2 separate regions of the Homo sapiens genome follow, and region 1 is linked to region 2. Evidence: fine-mapped expression QTL. A gene starts in region 2. The other region holds a variant in brackets. All regions are shown on one strand. Distances are from middle to middle.

The links. PIP is the estimated chance that this variant, and not a neighbour inherited with it, causes the effect.
Region 1: its variant is the best candidate, but not a certain one, in a credible set for the expression of GRHL3 in nasal epithelium (TOPMed, PIP 0.64).

Annotation. Positions count from the first base shown.
Region 1 is chr1:24,397,816-24,403,197 of GRCh38, forward strand. STPG1 (sperm tail PG-rich repeat containing 1) reads right to left here. Exons shown (of 9, transcript NM_001199013.2): 2 at 3,504-3,641. The coding sequence starts at 3,573. Among named protein-coding and RNA genes, the nearest start is that of STPG1, 13 kb to the right of the region's middle. The variant C/T (reference allele first, on the strand shown) is at 3,373.
Region 2 is chr1:24,316,613-24,321,994 of GRCh38, forward strand. GRHL3 (grainyhead like transcription factor 3) reads left to right here and starts at 2,745. Exons shown (of 16, transcript NM_198173.3): 1 at 2,745-2,956. The coding sequence starts at 2,940. It overlaps GRHL3-AS1 (GRHL3 antisense RNA 1), which reads right to left and starts at 5,379. Exons shown (of 2, transcript NR_183722.1): 1 at 5,054-5,379. RefSeq lists a silencer at 5,278-5,382.

The sequences.
Region 1 (5,382 bases), 81 kb after region 2:
TTGTATAAAAACATGATGTTTATTCACTGGTGATGTAAATTTGAGTTGTCGCCAGTTTGGGGGCATTACAAATAAAACTGCTATGAGCATTTTATCTACAAGTCTTTAAATGGACATAAGCTTTCATTTTGCGGGGTAAATGCCTAGGAGTGGAATGACTAGATCATATGTTTAACTTTTTAAAAAACTGTCAAACTATTTTTCATAGTCGTTGTACTTTTGCACATCCCCACTATTAGCGTATGAAAATTTCTATGACTTCACATTCTTATCAGCAATGGGAAGTCTTTTTAATCTCAGGCATCCCATTAGGTATGTAATGGTATCTCATTATGGTTTTAATTTGCATTTCCCTAATGACTAATGATGCTAAGCAGTCCTTCATATGCTATTTTCCCTCTGTATATCTTTTTTTTGGTGAAGTAACTGTTTAGTAGATACAGAAAAAGCTTTTCATAAGATCTAATATCCTTTGATGATTAAAAGAAAAACTCTAGCAAACTAGGAATAGGAGCAAACTTTGTTAATCTGATAAAAGGTGTCTATAACAAAAGCCTATAGCAAACAGGATACCAAATTGTGAAATATTAAAGGCTTTCCCTTGAGACAGGGAGTGAAACTAGTACAACTGCTATTATCCTTCTATTCAACGTTGTACTGAAGGTCTCTAGCCAATACAAACGCCTACATAAAATATATTAAAAATACATAAAATATATGGATGAGAAAGGAAGAAATAAAGTTGTCATTTTCACAGATTACAAGATTGTGTATGGGGAAATTGCAAAATAATCTGTGGACACCCTATAAGAGGTAATAGTTGGATTTAGTGAGGTCACCAGAATCAAGGTCAATATACAAAAATCAATTAATTTTTTTGTACAGCAGCAACAAACAATTTAAAATAAAATTTAAAATTACCATTTATAACAGCATAAAAATCAAATGCCTACAATAGATATAATGAAGATATGCAAGACTTCTACATAGAAAACTCCAAAACATTGAGAACAATTTAAGGTAACTTAAATAAAAGGATCTATACATGGATTAGAGAAGTTAATATTTATTGTAAAGATGTAAATTATCCTTAAATTGATTTCTAGAATCAATGCAATCCAAATTAAAATGAGAGTAGAGTTTTTTTAAGACATTAATAAGCTGATTGTAAAATTTGTATAGCTACCCAGATTTGATCATCGCACATTATATTCTTGTATCAAAATATCATGTGTGCACCATAAATATGTACAACTATTATGTATCCATAAAAATTAAAAATAAAAAAGTAAAATAAATTTATATGGAAATGCACTGGGGTCAAGAATAGCCAGCATAAACAAAGAAGTACAAAGTTGAAGGGCTTATGCTACTAAAGAGTTATTATAAAGTTACAGTAATTAGGACAGTATGATATTTGAACAGAATAAATAATCAAGAAGCAGAGCTGCATATGCCTGGACACTTGATTTATGACAAAGGTAGCAACAGCAATACAGAGTAGTAGAGAATGAGCAGCCTTTCAATAAATGGTGCTGGGTCAACATGGAAAACAACAGACTCGGGCATCTTCCTCAATCAAAAACAATTTCAAGTGAATTGTAGATCTAGATGTAAAAGGTAAAATAATAGAGTTTCTAGAAGAAACTATCTTGGGATGGGCAAAGATTTCTTAAGTATTAATAAAATAGACATGTACACTAAACATAAAGAGACTGATAAATTGGGCTATATTAAAATCAAGAGTTTCTGTGTCTTAGCACATTGTTAAGAGAGTGAAAAGGAAAGTCCCAGGATAAGGGATGACATTTACCTACAGCTAACAAATGACTTGTTTCTAGAATAAAGAATCCCTATAAATAAGAAAAGGACAGAATGGTTTAAAGAACTCCTATAAATAAAAAAAAGAAAAGACAAGACAAGACCCAGCAGAAGAAAATGGGCAAAAAAGTTGAACAGTCACTTCTCCAAAGAGAATATCCAAAAGGCCAGTCAACATGAAAAAGTGCTCAATCTCATTGATCTCAGGCAATGCAAATTAAAACTATTATGAGCTTAAAATGTTGGTGAGGATTTGGAGCAGCTGGAATTCACATACATTGCTTGTAAGGAGGTAAAATTGGCACAGCTACTTTGGAAAACTGTTTGGCAATATCAACTAAGCTTACCCTAAACATACCCTATGACCCAGCAGTTCCACTCCTCAGGTATAGACCCATGAAATACATAAATATGTGTCCCACAAGACAAGTACAAGAATAGTTACAGAAGTTTTTATTCATAATAGCCCCAAACTGGAAACAACCTAAATGTCCTTCAGTAGTAGAATAGATAAATAAATTGTGGTGTATTCAAACAAGAGTAATAAAATGAACAAATTACTCATAGATAAGACAAACCAACATGAAGTTAAATCTCTGAAACATAAGCCTGAGAGAAAAGAGCTCATATTGTATGATTCACATTTACATAACATTCAAAAACAAACTAAAGTTATTAATGATATGAGAAGTCAGGATAACCGTAGTGTTTACTTTTGCAGGGAAGGGAGATAATATCTGAGAAGGGACAAGGGCTTTTGAGATGCTGCTGACATTCTGTCTTGGTCTGAGAAGTTATTCCATAGGTGGTGTTTTCTTTGTGAATATTCATTAAGCTATACAATTAGGATTTGTGCACTTTTTCTGAATATATATTTATGCTTCAATTTAAAGAAATGTTAAAGAAAAAGAGAGTGCAAAATCAGAGGATAGGAGGAAGAAAGAGAGATCTCTCTGGATTTGAGAGCAGCAGCGACTCTGGAAGCCCACCAGGGAGGTGGTAACAGCCTCGAAAGAAAAAGCGCTGGAGCCTAGGGGGATCTCAAAATGAGGTTTCCTGTCTCAGCAATAATTCCTAAGCCACACTAACGAACCAGAACACTAGTTGGCGAACACTAGCAAAACCAAAGGGAGCACATGAGCTGGGACACTGGGGATCTCACCAATGTGGATGGTTGACCAATGACCTGAGTATTCCTCCCCACCCCAACCCAGCCTCCTGGGATCACACTAACTATTGGGAAAGTTCTGAACTTGAAACAATCACGAGGGAGATAGGATTTATGCTGATAATGGCTGGAGTTATCCTTTCCAACAACCCAGCAGAATGGGGACTTGCAGTCATAACTCAAGTTGAGTTCTAGGAAATAAAAAAAGATCTCTTACATATCTAAATTTGAGGATAGAGATTCTTACCAGATACATGGAACTAACAAGTCTGGGTTTTGTTTATTAGTTTTTTATTTTTTAACAGACTTCCTCCTTCTTCTCTCATCCTTTCTTCTCAGTTTCTTCCCAATCGTCACACTTGAAACAGTAGGGCCTAAAGCCA[C/T]CTATTTGGTATGCCTGTAAGGATGGCCCTGTGGATATAACCCAGGACTTACTATTCCCCCCAAATTTGCTCTTATGTACTAAAATAAGCATATGTCAGGAGCTATCTCCTCCCTGCAAAGACACATGTACCTTTCTGTACTTCACTGGCACGTCTGGGATGTTTGCCAGTGCGTTCATTTTTCTGTGCAGAGTTGTCCATGTTAGCAAAATTCTGTGACGTGTTCCATTTGTTTGATGAAAAGTTCTACTGCATGTTCTCCTAAGCACCTGAAACAGCAAAACACAGCATTTGTAGAGATCATTTCACATTGGTTAATTATTGCAAATGGGTTCTGTTCTATCTACAGGGTAAACTGAGAAATGGTGTGGGTGCCGGCTGAGATCTACCAAGTGCAGTGACCCAAAGTCCCAAGCACATTGTGCTGGTGCTGCCTGCAGTAGGAACTGCGTAAGAAGTCACTGTTGATGTTGCTTACAGAACTACTGAAGGCTTGGATTTTATTTTTATTTTTTATTTTTTGATACGGAGTTTTGCTCTTGTCACCCAGGCCGGAGTGTAATGGTGTGATCTTGGCTCACTGCAACCGCTGCCCCTGCCTGGGTTCAAGTGATTCTCCTGCCTTAGCCTCCTCAGTAGCTGGGATTACAGGCGCCCACCATCTGTAATTTGTATTTTTAGCAGAGATGGGGTTTCACTATGTTGGCCAGGCTGGTCTCGAACTCCTGACCTCAGGTAATCTGCCTGCCTCTGCCATCCAAAGTGCTAGGATTACAGGTGTGAGCCACCATGCCTGGCCTATTTTTATTTAAATTTAGCTTTACTGAGACATAATGTATACACAAATAAAATTCATCAGTGTTAGTTGTACAATTCCAAGTTTTGGCAAATGTTTACAGCCAAGTTAAATACCACCACAATTAAGATATTAATTTATCTATGATGCTGAGAAGCTCCCTGTGTCCCTTTGCAGTCAGCACCCTCCCAACCACTGCTCTGCTGTCACAATTGTTGCCTTTCTAGAATGTCACAGAAATGCAATCATAGACACTCTTTTTTCACTTAGTGTAATGCTTTTGAAATTCTTCCATATTGTTGCATAGATCAGTACTTTGTTCCAGTTGTTCTACATCCTCACCAACATGTGTTTGCTCAATCTTGTTAATTTTAGGCATTCTAGTGATTTTATAGTGGTATCTCATTGTCATTTTAATTTGGATATTTTCATGTGCTTATTTATCTTCTTTAGTGAAGTGTGTTCAAATCTTCTACCTTTAAAACAAAAAAATTGGGGACAGCCATTGTGGCTCACACCTATAATCCCAACACCTTGGGAGGCTGAAGCGGGAGGATTGCTTGAAGCGAGGAGTTTGAGACTAGCCTAAGCAACATAGTGAGACCCCATCTCTACGAAAAATAAAAAATTAGCCAGCCTGTAGTCCCAGCTACTCTGGAGGCTGAGGTGGGAGAACTGCTTAAGCCCAGGAGATCAAGGCTGCACTGAGCCATGACAGCACCACTGCACTCCAGAATGGACAACAGAGCAACAGCCTATCTCAAAAAAAAAAAACAAAAAAAAACAAAAAAACAAAAAACCACAAAACCCAAAAACAATTGGATTTAATTGGGTTATTTATTGAGTTGTACAAGTTAATACATCTGGATACAAGCCTTTTATCATATATGTTTTGAAAATATTTGCTCCCCGGCTGAGGTTTGCCTTTTTATTTTCTTAACACTATCTTATGAATGCAAATTTTTAAATTTTGATCAAATTTGTCAAAATTTTCTTTTAAGGTTTTAAGATTTCTTTTGTCAGATCTAAGCAATTTTTGCCTAACTCAAGGTCACAAATATTTTCTCCTACATTTTCTTTTAGAAGTTTTATAGTTTTAGCTCTTACATTTAGGCCTAGGATCCATTTTGAATTAAACTGTGTATACAGTATTAAGGTAAGGGTCAGGTTCATTTTATTTTCATTTTATTGCATTTGGAGATTCAATTAATCCA
Region 2 (5,382 bases):
TGCAAAATACAAACGCTAACTAAACAGCAGCCCTCATTATTTACTGTCATTATTGTGGATATAATTATTATGTTACAAGTAATTGGCTGGTCTCTGTTTATGTTTTTTTAAACTTTGTTTTTTTTTTTTTTTTTTGGAATAGCTGTTCTGTTTTAAATCTCCTCTGCAGAGGAACCAAGAGCTGTGCTGATCCATGAAGGGGAAGTAGGTGCCAGCCTTGCTCAGCCCCACAGGAGCAGGAAGGGGGCAGCAGCAAAGCACGGGGAGTGTCTCTTTAAAGGCCTGGCATCTCTGGGTTGTTGGGATGAAGGCCTAGAAAGCACTTGTACCTCCTGCCTGGGAGGTATAATTCCTACTGAGGGGCCTGGTGACCTTGCAAACTGGCTCATGGCGTTCCTGCCTACCTAGCCCAGACCACCGGTCCTTCTATCCCATCCGGGACACTTCTGTAGCCTTCCTGTGTGTGGAGACGTAGAAACCCTCTGCCCTGTGATTTGGGTCTCTGCTGATCTCTGAAGATGGGTGCGGGTGATGAAAGAGGCAAAACCTAGAGGCAGAGGGAGAGGACCCATTTTTAAAACCCCAGCGAGCACAGACACGCCACCTGGAATCCCAGCCTCCCCTGAGCCCAGTCAGCATGAGTCACCCCACAGCCCTTCACCTGTGGGTTGCAACACGGTTGACAGAAACTCCACAGCCTTCCATGAGGTGGGCAGACAGGTACATACAGAGGAGTGTGCCATCCTTTGGACTGCAATAAGCTTTGCAGTTACAGTTGGCACCAAATAGCCCTTCAGCCACCAATAAGCTCTGTGAAGTGGTTGGGCACCCAGGCTCTGCTCTCGGATTAAATCCCAGCTCTAGCTCTACCACTGCCTAGCTCTGCAGCTTGAGTAGTTTACTTCAGTATTCTGTACCTCAGTTTCCTCATCTATAAAATGGGGGTATCAAAAATGTCTATCTCCCAGGGTTGCTGTAAGGATTAGGCGACACAATGTATGCAAAGGCGCACAATGCCCGGTGCCTGTGGTATATGAAGCACCTACTAGGTGCCAGACACTGGAGATTCCACAGTGAGCGACACAAAGTCTTTGCTCTTATGGAATTTACATTCCAGAGGAAGGGGAGAAAGACAATAAACGATTAGAAAAATATCATAGGTCATATTACATTGTATCATAAGTCATAAGGGCTCTGCAGAGAACAAAAAGTAGTGTGATCCAGAGTGATTGAATGTCTACTTTATTAACAAGGGTGACTGAAGAGGGCTGCTCTGAGGAGGTGGCTTTATTAGCAATTATTTACTATTATTTATTAGGGTCCCCTGGGCTTCCCCCAACACAGCCTCCAGGGAGAAACCAATCTCTGAGAGTTCTCAAACCCAGTACCCCCTCTCCAGAGCCCTGACCCCACCCCAAGAGGGCTCCTTTGAATTCTGACTTTACCCTGAAAAACCTCCATAAATTGGCAGGGGTAGCTGAAACCTCACTTGCCGTTCCCAGAGAAGAGAGAGAGGAGTGGGCCAAGTTGAGGTTTCCAGGAAGACACAGCAAAGAGATAATTTGCCAAAAGGGGAAGGGTGGGGGAGGGGAGAATAGAAAGAGAGAGAGGGAAAAAAAGATGCCAAGATCTCTGGCTTAGATTTAATTTCAAACTAATCCTGGAAGAAGCTCTTTAAAAAGCTCTTACATTCTCCTGTTTGTGTTTGTGGATATTCTGGGGTTTACCAAGCTTGTTCTTTATAGTAGACAGCTCACAGCAATTACTCCACAATTACTTCATCTGACAGGCATTGAATTTCTCCCAAGTTCCCAATACAGAACGAAGCACTTGGAGCCTGTGAAATGACCAGCTGGCTGAGGCTTCAGAGGAGCCTTCAACTTTTCTATCCCTTCTGTGCTGACCAGAGGTATGTGGCTTGCCCACACCCCCTTCACACCCAATAAAAGCCTGTTCTCCTTTACTCCCCCACCCCCTGCCACCAACACACACCCCCCAGATTGTAAACTCCTTTAGAACAGTAACCCCTGTTTTTTCTGGCCTCAGTTTCTCCAGAACCCAGAGTAGGGTCTGGCACACAACGGGTGCTCAATGAATGTCTACTGAATTGAGGCCACTGACTTCAGCCCAAGGGGCAGCCAGACTTGGAGTGAGATGACTGCAGATTGGATCTGGGCTGGGACCTCGCTAGCTGTGCCCTTGGGCAAGGCACTTTGCCTCTCTGGCCTCCATTTCCTCCCTCATCTGTAAAATATGTGTTGAAGAGGAAGGGGGAAGCGATAATAAATCTACCACGGTAGGTTACTTTAAGAACCAAAAGAAGTCACTTGAGTAACTGCAAAAGATTATTCAAAAATATTACCTTAAAGGGGAAACTGAAAAAAAGGGAACTTATACAAAGATCTACCTGGGAAAAGTTGCTCTCTCCTTTGAGAATTCCCCAGTGGTACAGAAGGAGGGGGCAAAGAAATTTGGGGGTGGGGATGTTTCTGGGTATCTGGGACAATGACTAGAAACAGGAATCAAGTTTTCCTTTAAGCCAAGTTATCTGTTTGTCCCTGTACTTTTCCTCTAGTTATCTTGCTTCTTTCCAACATTTTCTTCTCCATCCCTCCTCCCTCATCTCCACCCCCCACCCCCTCACCAAGGAAGGAATTGGCCAGCTCCACCCAGCCAGTCCCCCATAGCTCCGCCCTCCTCGGCGGGCTAAGAGTTAACAGCTGCACCTGTTGAGGTATACCTCCAGTCGCCGGCACCTGTACCTGTAGCCAATCAGCGCCAGCGCTGCTGGGAACCTACCTGTCAGCAAAATCTCGACACCCAAACCTCAACATAAATCAAACACTTTCCCGGGCAGAGAATGTCTGTGTCAGGCAAGAATTAGAGACAAGCGGTCAGCAGAGCCTCAGTGCTGATCGTCGGAGCTTGGGAGCAGGAAGATGTCGAATGAACTTGAGTGAGTAAACATCGGTGGATACCTGCCGCTCTCAGAGCGTGGAGGCTGGATGGGGTTTCCTGGAGGGGGAAGAGCGGGGAGGCCGGCACCGGGATTCACAGAGCAATTTGTAAGGGTAAATGAATGGGCTGACGATCTTACTTTGGCGTGTCAAGGCAAGCCCCAGTCTCAAGCTAGAGGTGAGTGTTTCCCTGGGAAAATAGTTTTTCTCATTCTCTTTGCTGAGCAGTTTCGAGCCAGGCAGGGAAACACAAGACTGAAACTGTGAAGGTTTCTGGCACCACTTTTTGATCCTCTGAAGGGGCCTTGGAAATCAGACGACCCCAATCCCATCGAGGCTTTCTATCTTCTTGCCAAAAGGAACTTCTTTAAGGTAGTTCTAAGAGCTGTCTTAGGCAGAGAGTTGGGTTTCTCTAAAGGGACTTGTTTGCTGGGTTGGAACAGTCCCAAGTGGGAAGGTTACAGTGTGGTGGTTAAGCATGTGTACTCTTTGTAGTGGGCTTGACCTAAGTTCAAATCCAGGCTCTGTCCCTGGGTGATCTCAGACAAGACATTCAATTTTTCTGGGCTTCATTTTCCTCATCTGGAAAATGGGTACAAGAATGCTTTGTAGAATTCTGGAAAGAGTTAAGTGTGATAAATGCTGTAAAATGCTTAGCATAAAGCTATGGTCTGAAGATGCGTTCAGTAAAATGTGGTTCCTCTCATTCAGAGGCAGTTCTAAGGCTGGGGAAGATGAGAAGTGATTTTTGGTAGGTCACCTCTTTTGGCTGGGAGGATGCATGTGCCTTCCTGCCCACATCTGAGATTTAAGATCCTGACTGACTGATGCTGATCTTCACCATGATGTCCTTCTTGGGGTCCAGACCTTAGAGAAGGTAGGGTGAGGCTGGGATCTGGGCTGCTTTAGATTGGGTTCAGGGAGCTGGCAGGAGAAGCCAGAATCCTTTAAACACAGGCTCTCCTTTTCCTGCCACCCTCAGAGGTGAGTGGGCAGAGGCAAGGATTGTACCATCTTTTTTCTAACTGCTCCTCAACAGACTTTTAAGAACTTGAAGATCTGTGGGCAGACAGCAGTGCTAGGTCCTGACTGCAGACCGGATTCTATGTTCTAGCTAGCCCTTCAGCTCTTCATGTTCACAGCACAATCACTTGGGTTAACAGGCACATTTCTTTTGAATGAATTTCCCGGGGTTGACAATGTATTGACAATTGGACCGCAATGAGAATAAGAGCAGGAGCATTGGTACTGACACCTGGGTTCAAGTCCCAGCTCTAGCACTTATAGCTGTGTGATGTTGAGCAAGTCCCTTAATCCTCATCTGTAAATAGTGGCCAACAGTAGTATCCACCTCATGGGGTTGTTAGAGGATTTGACAATTTTAGAATAGTGATTGCTTTTAAGGCTGGTGGAGAACACACCAGTAACACCATTGTCATTTCATGTAGAACTAACCAATCAATGAGCATTCCCAAACCTCTTGCTATTTTTCCATACTTTGAACGCGCAAAAAAATCTTGACATGTGTCTCCATCCCACTTAAATTTGCTGGCTAAAACTGCGGAGGCTACAGACAGAATCTATTCATTACTGCACGTTAGGGGGTATGTGTTCTGAAGCTGGGTTACTTGAACAGAAAGGTTTCTTGCTTTTCTCCTCCCTAATGGTTTGGATTTGAAGTCAGATCCGCTGACAGTTGAGGCTTCTCAGTTTGGGGTGGGGTGAGGGAAGCCAGTTGCCTGCTGAGTAATTGCAGGCGGACTCCAAGCCACCATTTGAGATTACAGTGGCAGAGCCTGGGGGCTCAGCTGCCCCTACTGGTAAGGGGAGGGCACCCGGCGCTTGGCTTGCAAGTTCTGAGCTGCTGTTGCTTCTGCGGCCTCGACATTCTCCTAAAAAGTGCCAAGTTAAGAGGACTGGCCATAGCTTACAGCTTGGGCCCTCATGGAATGGCCAACTCTGGCCAGGCCTTGATATAGTGGCAAAAGTGGGACTTGCCTGTCACTCTAAATTCTGCCACTTACCAACAGCAGGATCCTGGTGAATTTGTTTGTCCTCCCTGACCCTCAGTCTGCTCATCTGTCTGTAACACCTACCTGGCAGGAACAACTGTGAGCTCCCAAATGTGGACCAGAGCTCCATCCGCGCCCGCCCGGTGGCCAGGCCCCGGGTGTAAGGCGGCACTTCGAAGGCTGGTCTCTGAGAAGCATGGAGGCCCCGGCGGTGTAGTTAGAAACCAGCTGGAGGTGGCTGGCGGGTGCTGAGCGCCGGGCCTTTCATGTGGTCGCAGCGCTCTGGGTGCCTGGAGCCCGCAGCCCTGGGCAGCCCCGGGCTACCGCAGGGCGCAAGGGATCCTGGGCTGCGGCCGAGGGCGCCGGAAGTCGCCGCCGACCGCCTGGGTCTCGCAGGAAAACAGCCGGCGCCC